Homo sapiens: one gene and its partners. The protein of the gene in region 2 interacts with the protein of the main gene of each other region in a pairwise test. Each region holds a gene or a part of one and is shown on either strand. Other genes may lie near its edges.

Region 1 (8,083 bases), on a different chromosome or scaffold from region 2:
CTCTCTCTCTAGTGAGAGAGAGGAGATTCCTGAGAGGAAAGACGGGCCGGTGGTGGAGGCGACAGATTTTATAGTCAGGCTTGAGGAGGCGTCTGATTTACATAGGGCTCACAGATTGGTTCACTCAGGTATGATGTTTACATAGCATGCAGGGAAGGCTGGCCACCTCACTCTAATCTTCTTATGCAGATGAACTTACCCCTTGGCCATTGCCATCTTCTCTGCTTCTTACTATACACGTGGCTGGCAGAGAAGGGAAGATGGAGCTGTCATTTTGAACATGATTGGTACAATGGCCAGCATCTATGTCTGCAGCTCGATTTTATAGGCTGCCCTTTGTTAGGAGGAAAATGATTTGGAGCTGCTTTTCATTAAAGGGAAAACCTTAACAAGGACTTCCATACCCTTACTATCTGCCTAAGTAATTTCTTCTTAACTCCTGTATCAAGAACACATGATATTTTATTTTCCATTCCTGAGTTTCTTCACTTAGAATAATGGTCTCCAACTTCATCCAGGTTGCTGCGAATGCCATTATTTTGTTCCATTTTATGGCTGTTCTATTTTATCCATATACCAGATTTTCTTTATCCACTGGTTGTTTGATGTGCATTTAGCCTCATTCCACATTTTTGCAATTGCAAACTGCACTTCTATAAACATGCATGTGTAAGTGTCTTTTTAATATAACAACTTATTTCCCTCTGGGTAGATACCCAGTAGTGGGATTGCTGGATCAAATGGTAGTTCTAATTTTAGTTAAAAAGGGGAGCTTTTGAAATTAAAAACCTTAGATGGTTTGTTAAGGGCCAAGTCATGGAAGAAAACAAGATTGATGGTACTAGATATTGAAATGACAAAGGGATAGAAAGAGTAACCAAAATAACTGTGTGTAAATGAATCAAGAGGTACAGGGTTCAGAAATGGTGGCAATTGTCTTACACTATAGAAAGGTAGACCCAGGAATAATTCTCTTTTCTTTCCTATATCTCAAATTATGATACGTTATACTAAGAGATAACTTGGAAGGGGAAAATATATGTTGCATAGGCTATATATATATATATATATATATATATATATATATATTTTTTTTTTTTTTTTTTTTTTTTGCTGAGATGGAGTCTTGCTCTGTCACCCAGGCTGGAGTGCAGTGGTGCTATCTTGGCTCACTGCAAGCTCCACCTCCCAGGTTCACGCCATTCTCCTGTGCATAGGCATATTTTAATGCTTAAAAGAGAGACAAAGATTATGGGGTTGGGGTTATAAACACTGGTATATCAGCAAGGGAGGAGCTTTGTTGATAGTTAAGGCAAAACAATAACTGTGTATAGTTGATGGTCCTGGGTTTCTGTATGGCAATGTGTAAGTTCCCTTCATTATGCAAAAACAAATGGTAAACAAAGCCAATGGGTTGAACTTTTACTCATAATATAAATTTACTCCAAAATCTCAGAAAGGAGGAAGTTACAGAAAGATAATCCTCACAGTCTGAAAAAGGAAGGAAAGTACTTTCTTCCATGCTAATGGTACCTCTATTCTCTTCAGGGCAGCAAGGAAGTCAGTTTAATTTTTCACATCTCTAAATTTATTTGCAGCTAGGGGTGGCCAGTTAAACAATTTTGATCAAAGAAATTTAAGTGGAGCTTTCCAGCCTGACATATAAAGAGCTTGCAAATTGTTCCTTCCTTCCTTACAATAAGAAAAAAGCAGAACAATCTGAAAAGCAATTAATCTTGTTACATTCATCAGAGAAGTGAGGGCACAGGGCAAGCTGCTGCCCTGAAAACCAGAGAGACAGACAAGTGGATGTGGAGAATCAGAGCTTGCCAGGAACAAAATCCTTCTGCTAAGGCCAGTACCAGTGGGAACATGTCAACTTTATCTGATGAATGGCTGGAGGCTCAGTATGCATGAGCTTTAATTAAAAACTCTGGGTGTAGAGAGGACAGTCTTAGGGAAGCTCCCATAGTTTCCTAAATTTTACCTCCAGGAGCCTCACTAGATCTCACTGTAAGGATCAGAGAACAATCTTTTTTTTTGCTTCTAGTAGTGAAAGGGGAGAAGTAATCATTTAAAAATATGTCAGAGCTCTCCGTTCTCTTTACCAGAGCATGCTCTCAAGAGAAACTATTTTAGCAGAGCCTAAATAAATTGGGTTTTACCAAATTCTAAGTGACTTAGGGGAAAGGAAATACACAACTCCTGTTCCCTATAGCTTTCCTATCTCACCTAACAGGGATGATAGCAAAGAAGAAGTTGTGAAATTTACATCCCAGGGATAGGAAACTGCTCTTGCAGTGAAAAATTATGACAGTAAAGACTTCTGTTCTAACCAACTCCATCTTGCCTTTCACCTCCCAGCTGCCCTTGGTTATTCCAGGGCATGGACAAAGCTAACTATAGGAGAAATTTAGTTTATAGTTTAATAATAGCCCTTCCCCAAAATTAAACCACCTTTGTAAAACTAATGAAAGGCCACAAGGTTAGGAGGATGAGAGTGGCCTGAATTCTGCTAAGATGCAGGCATAGTCAAGTGATTACCAGCCATTATTCTGGAGGTCACAAGATTTGCAACTTCCCCTATTCACTATTGTAGAAACTAGGATTGACCTTTTCACATATCTTTTCAGGCTTTTGCATTTCTGATGACCAGGCAGCCCCACATGGACCCAAGACTCTTAGCTCAACTAGTCCTGTGGTCCCCACCCAGAAGTGGACTCACCTCATGAGGAGGCATTTTCCATACCCCTGTGATTTCATTCCCAACCAACCAGCAGCCCATTCCCATAGGCCCCTGCCCACAAAACTATCCTTGAAAAAGCTTAGCCTCCAAATTTTCAGAGAGGCTGATTGGAGTAATAATAAAGCTCCAGTGTCCTGTTTAGCTGGCTCTATGTGTATTAAACTCTTTCTCTATTGCAATTCCCCTGTCTTGATAAATTGGCTCTATCTGGGTAGTGTGCAAAATGAACCCACTGGGCAGTTATAGATACAGACTCACTTAAAGACTGAATCCTAATCATAGGCTATGGAACCCTTCTTCCCCTACAACTTACCAACACATCAATTAGTCTCCTGTATATATCAGAGGATTCCAGCTTTAAAAAATTGCAAGCTTCAGATATTATTTAAGAAAGAGTCCCTAGCAAGACCAAAAATAAGGAGGAAGACAAAACTGAATCAGGGGAAATTTTACCCTCTGATATCACAGTTACAAATAAACAGAAAATGCAGCCTAAATCTTAGTCAGATAAACATAAAACCTACACTAAAAGCTTGTCTTCCTTAGTTTCTGTTACCCAATACATCATATCCAGCTTTCAATAAAGAACTACAAGACACACTAAAGGGCAGAAACAATCTGAAGTGAAAAAGTAAGCACCAATCAGATCCAGACTCAGATAATAGCAGATATTTTAGAATTATCAGACTTGGAACTTACAATAATTATGACAAATATGCTAAGTTCTAATAGAAGAAGTGGACATGATGCAAGACAAGATGGGTAATACAAGGCAAAATGGAAAATCTAAGAAGAAATCAAACTAACACTAAAAGTCTAAAATATTTTAATGGAAATGAAGCATGACATTGATGGGCTCATTAATACACTGAACTCAGAGGAAAAAAACTAATTAGCTTAAAGATATGTAAATAGAAACTTTCCAAACTAACGGTAAGGAGAAAAAAGTATAAAAATATAGAATACATTATTCAAGAACTGAGCAACAATTACAAAAAGTATAAATATGTACAATTGGAAAAAAAAAGAAGGAAGGAGGAGAGGAAGAGGAAAAGGATGAAGAGGAAGAGGAAGAAGAAGAAAGAAGAAGGAAGAAGAAAGGAAGGAAGAGAAGGAGGAGAAACAGAATAAATATTGACATAATAATAGATGTGAACCTTCTAAAGTTAATGATAGACAACAAACCACAGATTCAGAAAATTCATAAGACACAAAGCAGGATAAACACCAGATAAATGTCTACATCTAGACTTATGAAATTTAAACTGCAAAAGAATCAGACAAAAATGAAATCTTGAAAGAAGCTGGGGGAAAGTGGTAGGATAGCTTACTTAAATAGGAACATGAATAACAACAATTACATAGGATTTCTTTACAGAAATCATGCAAGCAATAAGAGAATGGAGTAAAATATTTAAAGTGTTCAAAGAAAAAGAGCAGAAACCTAGGATTCTGTATCATGTGCAAGTATCCTTCCAAAGTGAAAGAGAACAAAAGACTTCTTCAGACAAACAAAAACAGAAGGAATATTTGTTACTAGTAGGCTTGCCCACACAGCAATAGTTAAGAAGTTTTCAGAGAAAAGGAAAATGTTGTAAGTCAGAAACTTGGACGTACTTAAAGGAAGAGCATTAGAAATGAAAAAAAAGAAGGTAAAATAAAATATTTTATCTGTCTTATTCTTAACTGATCTAAGAAATAATAATTTGTTCAAAATAATAATTGCAACAATGTATGTGTTGTTTATATTTTATGGACAAGTGAATGACAATAATGTTATGAAGAATAAGAAAAGGGGAATGGGAATACTATGTCAAAAGGTAACTGCATTACCCATAAAGTAGTATAGTGTTATTTGAAAGTGAACTTGAACAAATTATAAATGTATAGTTCAAATGCAAAGGAAACCACTGAAAAAGTTAAAAAATAAAATAAAGCAAGTATAATTGACATGCTAAGACAGGAGAGAATATTAAATAATATGAATTGCTCAAAACTAGAGAATGCAGAAGAAGAATGGAAAAGTAAATGGCATAAATGCAAGTAAAAACAAGTCCACAACTAAAAGACAGTAACAGATAAGGCACATACTAATTCGACTATATCAATAATCACTTCAGATGTCAATGATCTTAAAGACAAAGACTGTCAGAGTTAATACAAATACAATACACAACTGTATGTTGTTTACAAGAAACTCACTTTATAAGGGCAGATGGTGTCAAAGGGATGGAGAAAGATATACATTGCTAACAGTAATCAACAGAAAGCTGAAGTTGCATTATTAATTTCAGACAAACAAGACTTTAGAACAAGAAAAAGTATCAATGATAAAGAGGGACATTACATAATAATAATGGGGTAAAATTACATAGTAATCCTTAATGTGTTTGTTCCTAACAACAGAACGTCAAAATATGTGAGGCAAAAACTGATAAAAGTGCAAGAAGAAATAGACAAATCTGCTATCATAGCTGGAAATGTCAATTCTTTCTAACAGTAATTGACAGATCTAGCAGGCAGAAAATCTGTAAGAATGTATTTGAACTGAACAGCACCATCAGTCAGTTGGATTTAATTGACATTAATAGTTACTTTAATAACAGCAGAATACAGTTTTCTCAAGACACATGGAACATTCACCAAGACAGATCACATTCAATGTCATTAAAATATACTTTAACAAATTTAAAAGGATAGAAATCATACAAAGTGTGTTCTCAGACCACAGTGGAGTTAAACTGGAAACCAATAACAAGAAAGATAACTGGAAATTCCTCAAATATTTGGAAATTAAGAACATACTTACAACTAGCACATAGATCGATGAAGAGGTTTCAAAAGAAATTTAGAATATTCTGAACAAAATGAAAACGAAAATATGATTTATTAAAATTTATGGGATATAGTGAAAGTGATGCTTAGAGAAATTTTATAGCATTAAATTAATATATTAGAAAAGAAGTAGCTCTTTACTCAATAGTCTAAGATTTCACCTTAGGAAACCAGAAAAAGAAGAGCAAATTAAACCCAAAGTAAGCAGTAGAAAAGACATAAAAACTAGAGCAGAAATCTGTGAAATTGAAAACAGAATGCAATAGAGAAAATTAATGAAACCAAAATATAATTCTTTGAAAATATTAGTAAAATTGATAAACTTTTGCCAGACTAACCAAAAAAGACACAAATTACTAACATCATAAATAAGAGACCATAACTGCCAATCCCATGAACATTAAAAGAATAATAAAAGAACATAACCAATAGCTCTATGCTCATAAACTTGAAAACTTAGATAAAACTGACTAAATCTAAAAAGGATTCAATCTACTAAAATTCACACAAGACATAGATAATCTAAATAAGGTTATTATCTATTTAAAAAATTAATTAATAATTACCAATCTTTCAAAATAGAAAATACTAAACCCAGATGGTTTCACTGATTACCAAACATTTAAAAAAGAAACTACTAATTCTTTACAATATCTTGCAGAAAATAGAAGCAGAGGGAATACTTCTTGACTCATTCTGTAAGGTGAGCATTACCCTAATACCAAAACCAGAAAAAGATATTAAAAGACAGGAAAATGACAGACCAATACCTCTCATGAACATAGATGTAAAAATTCTCAACAAAATATTAGCAAATTGATCCAAACATGTGTAAAAATAATTATACACAATCTGAGACTTATCCCAAGAATGTAAGGCTGTTTCAACATCTTAAAATTATTTAATGAAATTCATCACGTCAAAAGGCTAAAGGAGAAAAATCATATGATCATATCAACAATGTATAATAAGAATTTGACAAAATCCAGTACCCATTTATGATAAAAGCTCTCAGTACTAGGTGTAGAGAGGGATGTCTTTCACTTCATAAGGAACATCTCTAAAATACCTAAACCTCACATTATAGTCACTGTCAAGAAACCAGATTTTTTTCAGTTAATATTAGGAAAAAGGCAAAAATGTACCTTCTCACTTCTGTTCAACATCATAATGGAAGACATAGCTAATGCAGTAAGACAAAAAAAGGAAATAAATGTTATACAGTTTGAGAAGAAAGAAATAAATTGTTCTGTGTCTTCGTTCACAGACGACCTGACTAAGTAGAAAATCTCAAAGAATCAACAATAACAATAAAAAACAAACAAAAAACTCTTGGAAGTAATAAACAATTATAGTAAGATTAGAGGATGTAAGTTTAATACAGAAAATTCAATTGATTTCCTTTATGCCAGCAATGAACAATTTGAATGCAAAGTGAAAAACAGCCTCCCATTTATATTAGCAACAAAAAATAAAATACTTAGGCATAAATCCAAGAAAATATGTATAAAATCTGGATGAGGAAAATTATAAAACTCAGGTAAAAAAGATGATCTAAATAAATAGGAGAAATTCTATGTTAATTTATAGGAAGACTCAATATTGTTAAGATATCAGTTATTTCCAAACTGATCCTTTGGATCCAGCACAATCCCAATAAAAATTCTAGCAAGTTACTTTGTAGATTTCAACAAACTGATTCTAAATTTTATATTGAAAGGGAAAAGTTCCAGAAAAGCCAACACAACATTGAGGGAAAAGAACAGAAGAGGACTGACACTACCTGATTTCTAGACTTATTGTAAATCTATAGTTTTCGAGACAGTATGGTATTGATGAAAAACAGGATTCAACGAGACAGAATAGCGAGCTCGGAAATAAACCCACACAAATATATAGTCAATAAATCTTTGATAAGGAAGCAAAGGCAATACAATAGAGAAAAGATAGTCTTTTCAACAAATGGTACTAGAACTTGACATCTACATGAAAATGATAATGATAATAATCTGGACACTGACACCTTTCAGTAACATTAACTCGCTATGGATCATAAACCTAAATGTAACATACACAACTGCAAAACTTCTAGGAGATAATACATAAGAGAACTAATGTGACCTTAAATTTGGCAATAAATTTTCAGATATATAGCCAAAAGATTTAAGTGATTAACCTTATGTAGTCATCTAACATATGGCAAAACAAGAAGTGGAGTCCAGAACAACCTGGTTTCAAAGATAATCCTCTTTTCATTAAACCATATCACCTCCAGGAGATGACAGCAGAGGATATTTAAATAATAGATGAGATAAGACTTTTAAGACTGAAATTAGAAATTTCTCAAAGAGAAAGGGAAAAAGAAAATTTATAGTGAATATTACATGAATTAAAATGATGATATCAGTTGCATTTAATGATCTGTTAATTTCAGTGAAACCTCTATACTTACTAGGAGTCCTGGTTCTGGAATAGGAGAAGGCCTTGAAAACCTTTTATTCA
Region 2 (8,083 bases):
ACACATGCATTTTTCATTTGCTTTTACATTTAGATCAATTCATTTATATATCAATTTCATTTAGATTCCTACCTTGCCTTGATGAAATCCTACTCTTGCTGATGGCAAAGAAGTAAAATATAGTGGCAGAACTATCCTAGAGGTTAGCCATAGGAGGATTATAGAGTGAGCAACATATTTTTATATATTTGTTGAGGGTCCCTACTGAATATTATAACACTGAACTATGAAAGCCTCAATTGCTGGACTGACAACAAGAATTTTAAATAACATTTGTCTTACTCACAAAATGTTATAAAGCTTAAGATGGAAAAATACAAAATGTTTTGACATTACCTAAAGAATCATGAACTCTTGTTAGGTATATGATGGTGGCCCTGAACTTGAGCCAACATCTGTAATCACTTTTATCAGTCAAAAAGCCATGTTCTTTTATATAGCCTGTAGACTATTAAAATACAAAAATGTGGTAATGGATAAACAACTATACACAAAGCCCTCACACTTCAAATACTGTCCTGGATTGATGAGAGAGGAGCAGAATTCAAACATTTATCTGCAATCCTAATGGTTAAAATTTTACCAGGAACAGACCTGCCACTCTCTTGAAATACTGTCTCTGAGATTAACATACGAACAGCATCATCTCTGTTGGAAGGCTACATTCCCTTATGATGCTGATTTGTGTGTGTGTGTGTGTGTGTATGGTTTTTTGTTTTTGTTTTTTTGTGTTTTTTTGAGAGAGAGTCCTGCTCTGTCGCCCAGGCTGGAGTGCAGTGGTGCAATCTCGGCTCACTGCAACCTCCGCCTCCCAGGTTCAAGCAGTTCTCCTGCCTCAGCCTCCTGAGTAGCTGGGATTACAGGCGCGTGCCACCACACCCGGCTAACTTTTGTATTTTTAGTAGAGACGGGGTTTCACCATGTTGGCCAGGATGGTCTCGACTGCCTGACCTCGTGATCCATCCGCCTCAGCCTCCCAAAGTGCTGGGATTACAGGTGTGAGCCACCATGCCCGGCCTGTGTATCTTCTTTATGTTTACCCTACCAAGAGCAGACCTGAGCATTTTGCTGGCCGTAGAGGTATATAAAAGAACTCTAAGCTTAGGCATGCAGAATAGGCACTGGATGAATGTAGTGAGGCTATTAGGAGTCTTGTTGGCTCCCTGATGTCCTTATCATGTCTTCTTCGCAGACTGTGGATGCACACAAGACAGCTAAAACCTTGGGCATCATTTGAAAATGTTTGGCTGCCTGCTACAATCTCAGGAGAGAGAATCCTTCATACTTATATTGGACTGGATATATTGTCAATCAAATTCTTTTTTAAAAAAAGATGCTTCACTTTAGGAAATAAGACACCAGACCAGCAACATCAAGTAGGTATGGAATACTTGCTGGTGAAACACTTAAAACTAGGAAACTTCTAAATCTTCTAAAGGTGCTTAAGAGAATGGAGAAGTTAATCAACAGGAATCCAAGTGTTGTGGCTGTAAAGCAATACGACATAAGATCCCTAGTAAAGAGCAGGCCTAAGAGTTGGTTTTGGAAAGAACTTGGGCCAAGAACAGCAGAAAAAGCTAAATGAGCTACTTACGTCGATGTGTTTTAATACTGGTGCATTAGCAGTATCTTATGGAAGTTGTGAACACTAAGAACCAATTTCAAAAAATATAAAAATGTTTATAGGGCATATTAAAATAAAAACAGCTTAAATGAGTTCTATAAATAAAATAGGCCCAGCACAGTGACACACGCCTGTAACCCCAGCACTTTGGGAGGACAGGTGGGAGGATCGCTTGAGGCCAGGAGTTCAAGACCAGCCTGGGCAACAAAGCAAGACCCCATCTCTGTTCTTTTTAATATCAAAATTATAATAAAAAAGTAAAAATAAACGTACCTACTTAGAATACATATTAAATAAAGGAACTCCATGAGAAAATGTCACTGCATTTACCAAGTCAACCCTAGATTTTTGTGCAATGAAAAAGATTGGGACTATGTATTAACAATTTCATAAACAAATAATCAACAATTTTCTCTCCATTATTTCGATGTTGGGTAAAGCCTGAAATGTGGTGTCGAGTTTTTCCATTTGCGTTACATCAAATTCTTGTCTACTATGGATATTCTGATATGACAAAGACTAGTTAAACTCCTATTGAAAGATCTGCCATTTACTACACCCAAATAAGTTCTCTTAGGTATAAATTCTTTGATGTTGAATGAGCGTTGGGTTATGACTGAATCTCCTCACACACATACATGCTTATTACATTTATAATCTTTTTGCATGGCGTGAATTTGATACTAAACAAGGTAGTTTCTTTGACTGATGGCTTTTTCACATTCATTGCAGCAATGGAATTTTATTCCCATGTGAATTCTCCAAATGTGACTAAGGTATGAAAATACTAATAGCATGAAAAATTTGCCACATTCAATACATTTGTAAGATTTCTCACTGGTATAGATTTGCAGGAGTCGATTAAGAGTTTAACACTAATACCTTTTCTTCATTCGTCACATTCAGAGGGTTTCTCTCTGGTGTGAATTATCTGATGCTGAGCAATGGCTGAGCTATGACTGAAGGCTTTACCACATGCAGTACATACATGATTTCTCCCTGGTGTGAACTCTCAGATGCTGAATGAAGCCTGAATTTGATAAATATCTTCCCATCTTCATTACATTCATGAGTTCTCTTTGGTATGAATGCTCTGATGTTGAACTAGATGTGCTCTCTGACTGGAGTTCTTTTCCCATACATCACAATCAAAGGCTTTCTGTCTGGTGAGGACTTCTTGTTGCAGGATAAGATCTGAGCTATGACTGAAACTGCCCTCATACTCATTACATTCATACGATTTCTCTTTCCTATGCATTTTGTGATGCTGAATAAGGCATGAGGTTTGACTGAAAGCTTTTCCACATTCATTACATTCATGTGCTTTCTCTCCTGTGTGAATTCTTTGATGCTGAATAAGATGTGAATTCAATCTGAAGTCTTTTCCACATTCACTACACGTATAGGGCTTTTCTCTGAAATGAATTCCTTGTTGTTTAATATAGGCCAACCCATATTCATCATACTCATAGGCTTTCTCTTCATGATGGACCCTCTGATGTTCAAGTAGGTATGAAGTATGGCAGAAGTCACTGCCACATACAGTACACTTACAGGGCATCTCTTTGTGAATTTTCTGATGTTGAGTAAGGTGGACACTACGACTGAAGACTCTTTCACAACTGCTACATTTGTAAGATTTGGCTCTGGTGTGAATTTTCTTATGCTGAATTATGCCTGAGCTTGGACTACAGGATTTATCAGACGCTTCACAGGATTTATCAGATGCTTCACATTTGTAAGGTTTTTCTCTAGTGTGTATTCTTTTATGTCGACTAAGACTTGAGCTCTGACTGAAAGACTTTTCACATTCTTTACATTTGTAGGGCTTCTCTCTAGTATGGATTCTCTGATGTCTAGTAAGGGCTGAGCTCTGATGGAAAATTTTCCCACATACATCACATTTATAGGATTTCTCAGTGTTAGGGATGCTCTCCCATTTATTAAGGTGGGAGAGATCCATTAAGCTTTCCTTACATTCACTACTCTGAAAATCCTCTGTTAGATTTAAGTGTTCATGTTTACCAGAGGCTGAATTCTGGTTGAAGCTCATGTCATACTTATCATTGTCATCGGTATTCTGTATTCTAAGAACTCTCTGATCTGCATCAATAGTAGAGTCCAGACTGAAGCTTTTTTCGGGTTCATGACATTCATTGTTCTTCTCACTGGTGAAGGTTTCCTTGCTGATTGTTATTTGCCTAAACTCTCTCTCCAGGTACAGAAATTTCCTTAGAATTTCCTGAAGTCTTTCTAATCTGTCCTCAGACTTATACACTTCTCTAGTCTCAGGAACTTGGGTAATATCGTGTTTGAGTCTTCCTACTCTCACTTTGTATGAATGCACTTCTTCCGAAATTTTCTGCTTAGGAATCAACAGCTTGTTCTCTTCTCTGGTCTCTCCATCTGATACAATATATAAATAGAAAATGCAAATGTAATCTGTACCCTGTGCTTAGGAAAAGAAAACTCAGATGAGAAAACTAAACAATGTAGTATCTACAAGGACAAGAAAAGTTTATTTACTCTGAAAAACAGGCACAAAATCTCAACAGCAGAAGTTAAGGGCATAAACAGGAGCAGTGAGGTAAAACAGCGGACATGTTCAGCAGAGTAAGGAAATAATAGGGAAACAGCTGAAAGAATTTTAGATAAGCAACTTGATTGGGGTCTAGTACGACATGTGCACGGATACTAAACAAATGGAAAGGGTCAACCTAACTGAAGGGAAAAGGAAGGAACTCTCCATGCTAGGACACACACAGAGCTCTTCATTCTGAGTGCCAAAGCAGCTACAACTTGGCTCAACAATTGAACTTTACTTCCCTACTAATTCTATCTGATTCTGCCTTACTCACCTGAGCAGTCATCTCTTAAGACTTCTCTAGTCTTAGTTTCCAGATCAAAGACCTGTAGATCCTGTTCCAGCTGGGAGATCCCATCAGGCTTGGAAATTGGAAATCCTGCTCATAGAGAAGGAAATGGGATGTGGCAATGTATCCCCAGGTCCTACATCTGCCACTTTTTCTTTTAACTAATGATTAAGAGAGACAGAAGGTCGATTCTGAGAAGACATTAATTAGGAAGGTCTGGAGAGTGAAGAGGGCAAAGATCTACAAGGAGCTCAGATTTGTGCTCTAGAGGGATGTGTGTTAAGGGGCAAGTTGATGACTTGGGAGCAGAAGGATTCATTTAAATATTATTCAGACAACAGAATGTGTGCATGGGTTTGTCTTCACAGAAGTTATCATTATCACTCTCCATCTGTTACCTAAAGATTAATCTTCGGATTAGATCTGGTCTACAAGTATCAAAATGGAGGTCATCAAAATGTAATTCTGCTGGACTGGAGAAAGGTGAAACTCAAGCACCTGCTGCATGGTTAGCTAACCTGTAGCAAGAGAATCAGTGAAAACTGAATAAATATTCTAAGGACCAATCTCAAGAAACAATTTGTTTCAGTACACATAAGAAAACAAAGAGTAATATGACACATTCTTACCCATTAGGAGTGTAGCATTTATTCAACAAACATTTATGAAGTGCCTCCTCTATGCAAAGTATGCAGGGGATAAGAGGCCAAGAAGGTCCCTTCCCTCAAGGACCTCACACTCTACACAGAGACAGCTCTAAACAACTAACTACAATAAAATATAGAGAGGGAAGTGCAATCAGTGCATCTTCACATAAAACAGTCTTTCTATGGCTTGCATAATGCAATGCTTGGATATAAATCTCTTTTAAAGCTAAAGCAACAGGCAGTCTGCTTCCAAGGAGACAGAATTTTAATACTATTAGTATCAAAGGGCAGTTTTTAAATGTGTCCAGCCCAGAAAGCTTCTAATAGCACACATACAAGGTCTGGCTCAAGCCCCTCATCTCCAAAAACCTTTCTCTCCATTTACTGAATGTGTACAAAATTTATTAGTTGTTCCCTCTTATCCTGACATGTCACATATAACGGTGTTTACATAGATTTTTTTTTAAGTGGTTTCAGGTATTGTCATTCATACTTGATTTATAAACTCTTTGATAGAAGGGACCAGGTATCTTGTATCTTGCAATTCTTTTGATTAATTTACTTAACGGCTACTTATTGAGTGCCAACTCTGTGCGCCCAAGTATCAATGTATTAACAGCTACCCAATTTTATAAAAAGGGCATTGGGGCTGGAAAATATGAAGAACTGACAGCTGCCCCAAAGATTCCATGTGAGAGCCTATGAGCAAGGAGATCAGAATAGATAGAAGAAAGGTATTTACTGTGTTTCTGAAATCCTGTGGGACATTTAGAGTCAACTCTCCTTGTGGACATATATTTAATTAAGGTCCACCCTGTCAAATGAAATCGTTTCAGAAGTTTAAAAAGTAAAGTTAGTGTAACATGAAGCAGCAATCAATATTGTTCTCAGAATTCCAATAACATAATTTGCAACTTTTAACTCTGAGATATTTAAAGTGTCTGTCGATATTTGGTAACTGAAATAAATTCTGGCTGCTTACTCCATATCTACACTTAAAACACATATGCACAACAAAAAAGGTGGTCTTCATGTGGGATGAGGGGTTTGATTTTAGATGTGTGTTTAATGTAATGTACGAAGGTATAAGAGAAAATGCCCAGCAGATGAGTACGCAAAGGCATACAGAGTGATAAAATGGACTTCAGAGACTAAGAAGGGAAAGGGTGGGAGAAGGGACAAGGGATAAAAAACTATATATTAGGTACAATGTACACTATTCCAGTGACAGGTGCACTAAAATCTCAGAATTCACCACTATGTATTAGAATTCATCCATGTAACAAAAAACCACTTGTACGCCCCCAAAACTACTGAAATAATTTTTTTTAAAAGAGAAAATGCCTAGCAGGTAAAGATACAATATCACAGTTTAGAAGAGAGAACAGGGTATCATCAGTACCATCAAAATATTATTAAGTTTTACTAAGTACTTGGTAGGTGCAAAGTACCATGCCAAGAGCTCTCTAGGTTTTCACTCATTTAATACCATAAATTTAAAACGTAGAAACTATTATTATAGCCATTTTACAGATGGGAATACTAAGATTCAGAGTGGTTAAGTAGCTTGCCCAAGGTTACAATAACTGGTAATGCTTAGTTTTCAAACCTGCACAGTCTTATTTCAGAACCTAGCCTTTAAACAATCTGCTAGTAAAAAAAAAATTATGATTTTGCCTCCTAACAAGCCCTGAAAAAAAATAAATAATGACTGTGAACAAAATCCATCCCTTCCTCCAAATTACACACAGAAAGAACGTGTAAGTTTTCTTGGCACTAGCCTAAATGCCTATTTCCTAAATTTAACTCAAAACTTTGCTTTCAAAATATGCACTTGCTTTATTTACATTTTTCCTGTTTAAAATTAATGTATTAAAACTTTTTGATTTTATTTAAATCTTGAGTTTTCTAATATGATTTATAAAATATTGACAGTGAAGTAAAAGGTAAATACAAACAACAGAGAAAAAGTGATTAGAATAACATACGGTGAACCAGGATCCTAAATAATTGGAGTCGCAGAAGTGTTAATTAAAAGGGATCTATGGCTGGGCACAGAAGCTCACACCTGTAATCCCAGCACTTTGGGAGGCCATGACGGACAGATCACTTCAGCCCAAGAGTCTGAGACCAGCCTGGGCAACATAGTGAGATCCCACCTCTACAAAAAATACAAAAATTAGCCAGGCATGGTGGCACACGCCTGTAGTCCCAGCTACTTGGGAGGCAGAGGCAGAATGATCGCTTGAGCTCAGAAGGCCGAGGCTGCAGAGAGCCAAGATCACACCACTGTACTCCAGCCTGGGTGAGAGTGAGATCCTGTCAGTCAGTCAGTCAGTCAATCAACCAACAAACGAATCAAGAGGATCTATGGACCAGGCATGGTGGCTCACACGTGTAATCCCAGCACTTTGAGAGGTCAAGGCAGGAGGATCTCATGAGCTCAGGAATTTGAGACCTGCTTGGGGAACATAGTGAGACTCCATCTCTACAAAAAATTAAAATTAAAAATTAAAAGGGATCTAAAAGATGATTTATTATCAAGGAAATGGAAATCCTTTACAATAAAAATCCAAACCCCAGCCAGGCACGGTGGCTCGCGCCTGTAATCCTAGCACTTTGGGAGGCCAAGGCAGGCAGATCACAAGGTCAGGAGATCGAGACCATCCTGGCTAACACGGTGAAACCCTGTCTCTACTAAAAATACCAAAAATTAGCCGGGCGTGATGGCGGGTGCCTGTAGTCCCAGCCACTCGAGAGACTGAGGAAGGAGAATCGCTTGAACCCGGGAGGCAGAGGTTGCAGTGAGCCGAGATCACGCCACTACACTCCAGCCTGGGAGACTCCATTTCAAAAAAAAAAAAAAAAATCCAAATCCCTAGACAATAGTCCAAACAATAATAAATTTGAGGAAACTCCACTATAAATAAATAATTTGA
Region 3 (8,083 bases), on a different chromosome or scaffold from region 2:
AGTTAGTTCAGGCTGCTATAACTAAATACCATAGACTGGGTGGCATAAACAACAGACATTTATTTTTCACAGTTCTGGAGGCTGGTAGTCCAAAATCAGAGTGCCTGTGTATTAATCCATTCTCACACTGCTATAATGAACTACCTGAGACTGGGTAATTTATGAAGAAAAGCGGTTTAATTGACTCACAGTTCCACAGGTTGTACAGGAGGCATGGTTGGGGAGGCCTTGGGAAACTTAGAATCATGGCAGAAGGCAAAGGGGAAGCAAGGCATGTCTTCACGTGGCCAACAGGAGAGAAAGAGAGAGAAAAGGGGGAAGTGCTACACACTTTCAAACAACCAGATCTCATGAGAACTCTATCAAGAGACAGCACTAGGGAGATGGTGCTAAACTGCTAGAAACCACCAGGCTGGGCGCAGTGGCTCACGCCTGTAATCCCAGCACTTTGGGAGGCTGAGGCAGGCAGATCACGAGGTCAGGAGTTTGAGACCAGCCTGACCAACATGGTGAAATGCTGTCTCTACTAAAAATACAAAAAATTATCCGGGTGTAGTGGCACGTGACTGTAATCCCAGCTACTCAGGAGGCTGAGACAGGAGGATCACTTGAACCTGGGAGGTAGAGGTTGCAGTGAGCCAAGATCGTGCCACTGCACTCCAGCCTGAGCAACAGAGCGAGACTCCATCTCAAAAAAAAGAAAAAAGAAAAAAAAGAAACCACCCCCGTGCCCACCAGCCACCCCCCAACACACACACACACTCGGGATCACAATTCAATGTGAGATTTGGATGGGGACACAGAGCCAAACCATATCCCCCAGCATAGTCAGATTCTGGTGAGGGCCCTTCTCCTGGTTCACAGATAGCTGTCTGCTCTTTGTATCCTCAGATGGCAGGGAGAAAGAAAGAGAGAGGAAACAAAATCTCTCATAGCTCTTCTTATAAGAGCACTCATCCCATTCATGAGAGCTTCACTCTCATGACTTAATTACCTCCCAAAGGCCCCATTTCATAATGCTGTCACTTTGGGGTTTAGGCTTGACATATGTATTTGTTGTGGGGGACACAAACATTCAGTCCTTAATAGTCACTAAATAAGTCCAAGCCCCACCCTCTAAAAAAACAAGAGGAGAAATTTGGCAACTGAGTGAATGAAGGAAAAAATATTTCGTGTCAAGAAATAGAAAGAAAGTAGTGGCAAATGCAAAAAAAAAAAAAAGTTGTTTGAAATTCCCTTATTAGTAATAAGTATTTGTTATAAGACAGACTTTTTACATTTTTAACAATAAGTGACAAATTCTGTATTTTCCTAGCAAAAATTAGAGATGGTAAAAAATCCAACATGAATGATTTGACACCTTTTCTTTTGTTTGTTTTCCCTAATAGGTAAAGAATGGATTTACGGCCGGGCGCGGTGGCTCACGCCTGTAATCCCAGCACTTTGGGAGGCCGAGGCGGGCGGATCACGAGGTCAGGAGATCGAGACCATCCTGGCTAACACGGTGAAACCCCGTCTCTACTAAAAATACAAAAAATTAGCCGGGCGAGGTGGCGGGCGCCTGTAGTCCCAGCTTCTCGGGAGGCTGAGGCAGGAGAATGGCGTGAACCCCAGGGGGCGGAGCCTGCAGTGAGCCGAGATTGCGCCACTGCACTCCAGCCTGGGCGACGGCGAGACTCCGTCTCAAAAAAAAAAAAAAAAAAAAAAAAAAGAATGGATTTACTTTTTTTTTCTCAGAATGAAGATGTACAAATGAAAGAAGCCTTATTTGCTGTACTTTAAAATGAATAACATTTTTAAATATGTTTGTCTCCCCACTTTTTAAAAGGAATTTAGAGCAAAGTCAAGAGAATGGGACAAGCAAGAGATATTATATCAGACTCATCTGATTTCTTTAGATGCTCAACAAAAATTATTATCTGAGAAGTGTAATCAGTTTCAGGTAAGTTATCTAATACTATTCTCTAAATCAAAAGCAGAAGTTAAATATTGGTATCTTTACCATTCACCAGTAATCTATTTACAAACAGACATGCCAACTAAGAAAAAACGAGAGTAGGTCCAAAGGTGGGTACAGTCACAAGTGCATAGAATATCTGTTAATGGTGAGTTTAGTCTACATGTCTCAAAGGATGGAGCTATTTAAAATTCCATTGTTATTGTGTCATTAAATAGCATATGTTTTTGCATGCCTACAGGCAAGGCACTCAAAGAATTTACGATTGCTTGCTTTACTTTGTATTTCCCTGGCTACTTGTAAGACTGAACATCTCCTCATATACTTTTTAGCCTATCTCAGGTCTTTCTGTGAATTGCCTATTCATAAACTTTGCCCATTTTTCTTTTGCATTGTTTGCCCTTTTCTTATTGATGTGTAGAAGTGTTTGTACACTAGGAATTATTAACTCTGTTACATGCATTGACAACTTTTCCCCTACAATCAAATTGTTTGTTTTTATTTATTTTTGGTTATAGACTTTTTTCAACCATTGTATAATTGAATTTTTTACACCTTCTAGATTTTTTTTCTTGCTTAGTATGGCTTTACTACCACTAACCTCCTTCTCTACTCTACATCTTTGCTCTGAGGTTATACAAATATATTTTCTCTATATGCCATCTGAAATTGAAATTTTAAAACAAATATAAGACTGAATTACAAAGACCCAACTTTCATTATGTAGTAACATATTTAAAGATATTCCTACTAATTCTTTTCTATCATTCTTGAACTTCATGTAAGCTTAAATATGACATTCTTCATTTGAGTTACACAGTTTTTATATTTTTCAGAAACAGGCACAAAGTTACCAAACTCAACTAAATGGTAAAAAACAGTGCTTAGAAGACAGCAGCTCTGAAATTCCTCGTTTGATATGTGACCCAGATCCCAATTGTGAAATCAATGAAAGAGATGAGTTCATTATTGAAAAACTGAAATCAGCTGTAAATGAGATAGCACTAAGCAGGAATAAATTACAAGATGAAAATCAGAAGCTCTTGCAAGAACTGAAAATGTACCAAAGACAGTGCCAGGTGAAGATTAATTTTTTTTCAACTAATATTGTCCATGACTTGTATAAATGGTAACACATATAGAGATTAGAATGATTAGAATGGTAGTTTTCTATTATTAATATATGTGAAGATTCCATTCATATTTCCTCTTAGTAATTCGCACTTGATGCGTAGATTCAATAATCCCATAAGTATGTTACCACACTTAGAGTGCACTTTGGTTCTGCGGTGGCATAATAATAATGTATTACCAGTGCAATATAATAGTGGTCACTTACGGACCTCTATGCCTTTAGCCATGTACTACCCTCTTCCCCCACTATTTTCTCTTACCCTGTGTTTCTTTGACTCAGAAGAATCCTGGGTTAAAGATACAGGAAATCGTGAAGGGTTCAACAATTTAGTAACCTCAGTGAGAGCTATGGAGATGACTCCAGTGATTTATCACTGGTAATCTTATCATAATCATTTATCAAACAGTAACCTAGAATTTATTTTTAGGTAACTTTCACATTGACAAATATGATTGATGGTTTAACAAGCATTAATTTTTTTTCTTAACTGAATAATGTTTTTTTCTTTTTTGTCTATTTCTTGCAACCTTTAGGAAGGTTATACAGCATTCATCAAAATTGGTCATTACCAATTTCTTTACAAAATATGTATTTCTTTTTTTTTTTTTTTGAGACGGAGTCTCGCTCTGTCGCCCAGGCTGGAGTGCAGTGGCGGGATCTCGGCTCACTGCAAGCTCCGCCTCCTGGGTTCACGCCATTCTCCTGCCTCAGCCTCCCAAGTAGCTGGGACTACAGGCGCCCGCCACTACGCCCGGCTAATTTTTTGTATTTTTAGTAGAGACGGGGTTTCACCGTTTTAGCCGGGATGGTCTCGATCTCCTGACCTCGTGATCCGCCCGCCTCGGCCTCCCAAAGTGCTGGGATTACAGGCGTGAGCCACCGCGCCCGGCCCAAAATATGTATTTCTTATTCATCAGTACTTGAGACGTTCTTTTATCTCCCATTTTAGGTTTTTTCTCCCACCTCCAAATATTCAGCCTGTTTCTATCACTTCCTCCATGACAGTTGGCCGATATCTTTTCCCCACTCTATTCCCTCGTCTACCTAGCATACATGATTGAGGTAAGGTCACTGCCTGAGAACTTCCATTTCATTTCCTTGAGATATACCACCCCAAGATCTTTTGCCACTTAAACTCCCAGGGTCATTTCTTAGTCCTCAGCCAACTCCTCATTCCCCCACCGTGCCACATCATATTTGGGATTATATAGGGAGTTAGTCCTTTAACTTCTTTCTCTGCCAGCATCTACTGTTCTATGTTCCTCTTTCCCCATGCTTGGTAAGGGACAGAATTCAAGGCTCCCAGTCTCTCCCATTCAGAGGCAATTGTAAGACATACATATTCCCCACTTCAAACTCCAGCTTTAAGGAGGGAGGTCTTATTCTAATACAAGTTAGAATACAGATGTAAACCAATAAAGAAAGCTAATCTACAAACACTAAATGCAGAGGAAGCCAGAAATAGTCTGGAAATAGCAAAGGTATTGATGGTGTTTTCTCTGGCTTCATTCTAATATAAATGAGGTTAGCACTCATTCATCTGCTCTAGAGGGTGCCTAGGGGCTTCTAAGTGCTTAGCATCAGCCCACCTCCGACTGTCTGAGCTGTGTTTGCATGACTGCGGGTCATGCAGTGATGGGGTCTTTCCTTCTCAGAGGCTGCTGCCTTTTGCTTCGCTAAGTATATGACAACTGGTCATGCTTTCTATTTAAAGGCAACCTATACTTACATTTTGCAGCTGTCTTTGTACTGCTGGAATCTGCATCAGAATCACATTCAGTAAATAAGAAAATTGTTGTTCTTGGTACTTCCCAAGTATTCTCCTCTAGGCTTGGGGTCATCCAGTGCCAACCAAAGCATTCTCTGCTTTGTCCCTTCTTCTTTTGGCAGGGGAACAGGTGGTGGTGGTTGGTTACATAAATAAGTTCTTTACTGGTGATTTCTGAGATTTTGATGCACCCATCACCTGAACAGTTTACACTGTACCCAATTTGTAGTATTTTATCCTTCACCACCCCCAACCCTTTCCCCTGAGTCCCCCAACATCATTCTTATGCCTTTGAAGCCTAATAGCTTAGCTCCTACTTATGAGTGAGAACGTAAGTAGGAGCAATAACAAAATGATGTTTCGTTTTCCATTCCTGAGTTACTTCACTTAGAATAATGGTCTTTAATTCCATCCAGGTTGCTGCAAATGCCATTATTTTGTTTCTTTCTATGGCTGTGTAGTATTCATATATATATACATATATATATACGTATATATATTTATATATGTATATATATACGTATATATATATATATATATATATATACGTATATATATGCCACATTTTCTTTATCCACTCATTGATTGATAGGCATTTGGGCTGGTTCTATATTTTTGCAATTGCAAATTGTGCTGCTATAAACATGCATGTGCAAGTATCTTTTTCATATAATGACTTCTTTTCCTCTGGGTAAATACCTAGTAGTTAGATTGCTGGATCAAATGGTAGATCTACCTTGAGTTCTTTAAGGAATCTCCACATTGTTTTCCTTAGTGGTTATACTAGTTTACATTCCCACCAGCAGGGTAAAAGTGTTACCTTTTCACCACAACCATACCAACATCTATTATTTTTTTGATTATGGCCAGTCTTGCAGGAGTAAGGTGGTATTGCATTGTGGTTTTGATTTGCATTTCCCTGATCATTAGTGACGTTGAGCATTTTTTCATGTGTTTGTTGGCCATTTGTATATCTTCTTTTGAGAATTGTCATTCATGTCCTTAGCCCACTTTTTGATGGGATTGTTTGTTTTTTTCTTCCTGATTTGTTTGATCTCCTTATCAATCCTGGATATTAGTCCTTTGTCAGATGCATAGTTTGTGAAGATTTTCTCCCACTCTGTGGGTTATGTGTTTACTGATTATTTATTTTGCTGTGTAGAAGCTCTTTAGTTTAATTAGGTCCCATCTATGTATCCTTGTTTTTGTTGCATTTGCTTTTGGGTTCTTGGTCATGAAGTCTTTGCCTATGCCAATGTCTAGAAGGGTTTTTCCAACGTTATCTTCTAGAATCTTTATGGTTTCAGGTCTTAGATTTAAGTCTTTGATCCATCTTTAGTTGATTTTTGTATAAAGTGAGAGATAAGGATCCAGCTTCATTCTTCTCCAATTATTCTTGCCAATTATTCCAACACCATTTGTTGAACAGGGTGTTCTTTCCAGACTTTATGTTTTTGTTTGCTTTGTCAAAGATCAGTTGGCTGTAAGTATTTGGGTTTATTTCTGGGTTCTCTATTGTGTTCCATTGGTTTCTGTGCCTATTTTTATACCAGTACCATGCTGTTTTGGTGACTATAGCATTATAGTATAGGGTATTTGGTAATTTGATGCCTCCAGATTTGTTCTTTTTGCTTAGTCATGCTTTAGCTATGCAGGCTCTTTTTTTGGTTCCATATGAATTCTAAGAATTTTTTTCTAATTCAGTGAAGAATTATGGTGGTATTTTGATGGGAATTTCATTGAATTTGAAGATTGATTTTGGGAGTATGGTCATTTTCACAATATTGATTCTACCCATCCATGAGCATGGGATGTGTTTCCATTTGTTTGTGTCATCTGTGATTTTTTTCAGCTGCGTTTTGTAGTTTTCCTTGTAGAGGTTTTTCACATCCTTGGGTAGGTATATTCCTAAGTATTTCTTTTTCTTTTCTTTTTTTTTTTTTTGCACTATTGTAAAAGAGGTTGAGTCTTTATTTGATTTTCAGCTTGGTCACTGTTGGTGTATAGCAGTGCCACTGATTTTTGTACATTGATTTTGTATCCTGAAACTTTACTGAATTCATTTGTCAGTTCTAGGAGCTTTTTGGATGAATCTTTAGAGTTTTCTAGGTATATGATCATGTCATCAGTCAACAGAGATAGTTTGACTTCTTTTTTACTGATTTGGATGCCCTTTATTTCTTTCTCTTGTCTGATTGCTCTGGCTAGGACTTTCAGTACTATGTTGAATAGAAGTGCTGAGAGTGGGCATCCTTGTCTTCTTCCAGTTCTCAGGGAGAATGCTTTCCCCATTCAATATAATGTTGGCTGTGGGTTTGTCGTAGATGGCTTTTATTACCTTAAGGTATGTCCTTTCCATGCCAATTTTGCTGAGGGTTTTAATCATAAAAGGATGCTGGATTTTGTCACATAATTTTTCTGTGTCTATTGAGATGATCATGTGATTTTTGTTTTTAATTCTGTTTATGAGGTGTATTGCATTTATTGACTTGCATATGTTAAACCATCCCTGCATCCCTCATTTGAAACCCACTTGATCATGGTGGATTATCTTTGTGATATGCTGTTGGATTCAGTTAGCTAGTATTTTGTCCAGGGTTTTTGCATCTATGTTCATCAGGGATATTGGTCTGTAGTTTTCTTTTTCTCTTATATCCTTTCCTGGTTTTGATATTAGGGTGATACTGGCTTCACAGAATGATTGAAGGTAGGATTCCCTCTTTCTCTATCTTTTAGAATAGTGTCAGTAAAATTGGTACCAATTCTTCTTTGAATGTTTGATAGAATTTAGCTGTGAATCTGTCTGGTCCTGGACTTTTTTGTTGGCAATTTTCATATTACTGTTTTGTTTTGTTTTGTTTTTTAAACAGTGTCTCACTCTGTTCCCCAGGCTGGAGTGCAGTGGTGCAGTTTCGGCTCACTGCAACCTCTGCCTCCCTGGTTCAAGCAATTCTTCTACCTCAGCCTCCTGAGAGCTGGGTTTACAGGTGCCTACCACCACACCCAGGTAATTTTTGTATTTTTTAGTGTATTTTTGTGTTGTTGGCCAGGCTGGTCTCGAACTCCTGAGCTCAAATGATCTGCCCGCCTTGGCCTGCCAAAGCGCTGGCATTACAGGCATGAGCCACTGCACCCGGCCTATATTACCATTTCAATCTCCCTGCTTGCTCTCGTTCTTTTCAGAGTTTCTGTTTCTTCTAGGAGTTTAATCTAGGAGGGTTTA

The links. The genes of interacting proteins can lie anywhere in the genome.
Region 1: the proteins of ZNF655 (region 2) and CCDC179 interact in binary tests that used the Homo sapiens proteins (3 or more experiments, as listed by UniProt).
Region 3: the proteins of ZNF655 (region 2) and DEUP1 interact in binary tests that used the Homo sapiens proteins (3 or more experiments, as listed by UniProt).

Annotation. Positions count from the first base shown.
Region 1 is NC_000011.10:22,849,889-22,857,971, forward strand, and holds part of CCDC179 (coiled-coil domain-containing protein 179), read right to left. Parts: coding exon 8,034-8,083; intron 6,765-8,033; coding exon of another isoform or gene 6,747-6,764; exon of another isoform or gene 6,727-6,746; intron 1-6,726.
Region 2 is NC_000007.14:99,568,192-99,576,274, reverse strand, and holds part of ZNF655 (zinc finger protein 655), read right to left. Parts: intron 4,588-8,083; coding exon of another isoform or gene 4,483-4,587; intron 4,031-4,482; coding exon 2,691-4,030; 3' UTR 1-2,690. UniProt on the Homo sapiens protein: Probable transcription factor.
Region 3 is NC_000011.10:93,368,245-93,376,327, forward strand, and holds part of DEUP1 (deuterosome assembly protein 1), read left to right. Parts: intron 1-1,828; coding exon 1,829-1,942; intron 1,943-2,793; coding exon 2,794-3,036; intron 3,037-8,083. UniProt on the Homo sapiens protein: Key structural component of the deuterosome, a structure that promotes de novo centriole amplification in multiciliated cells.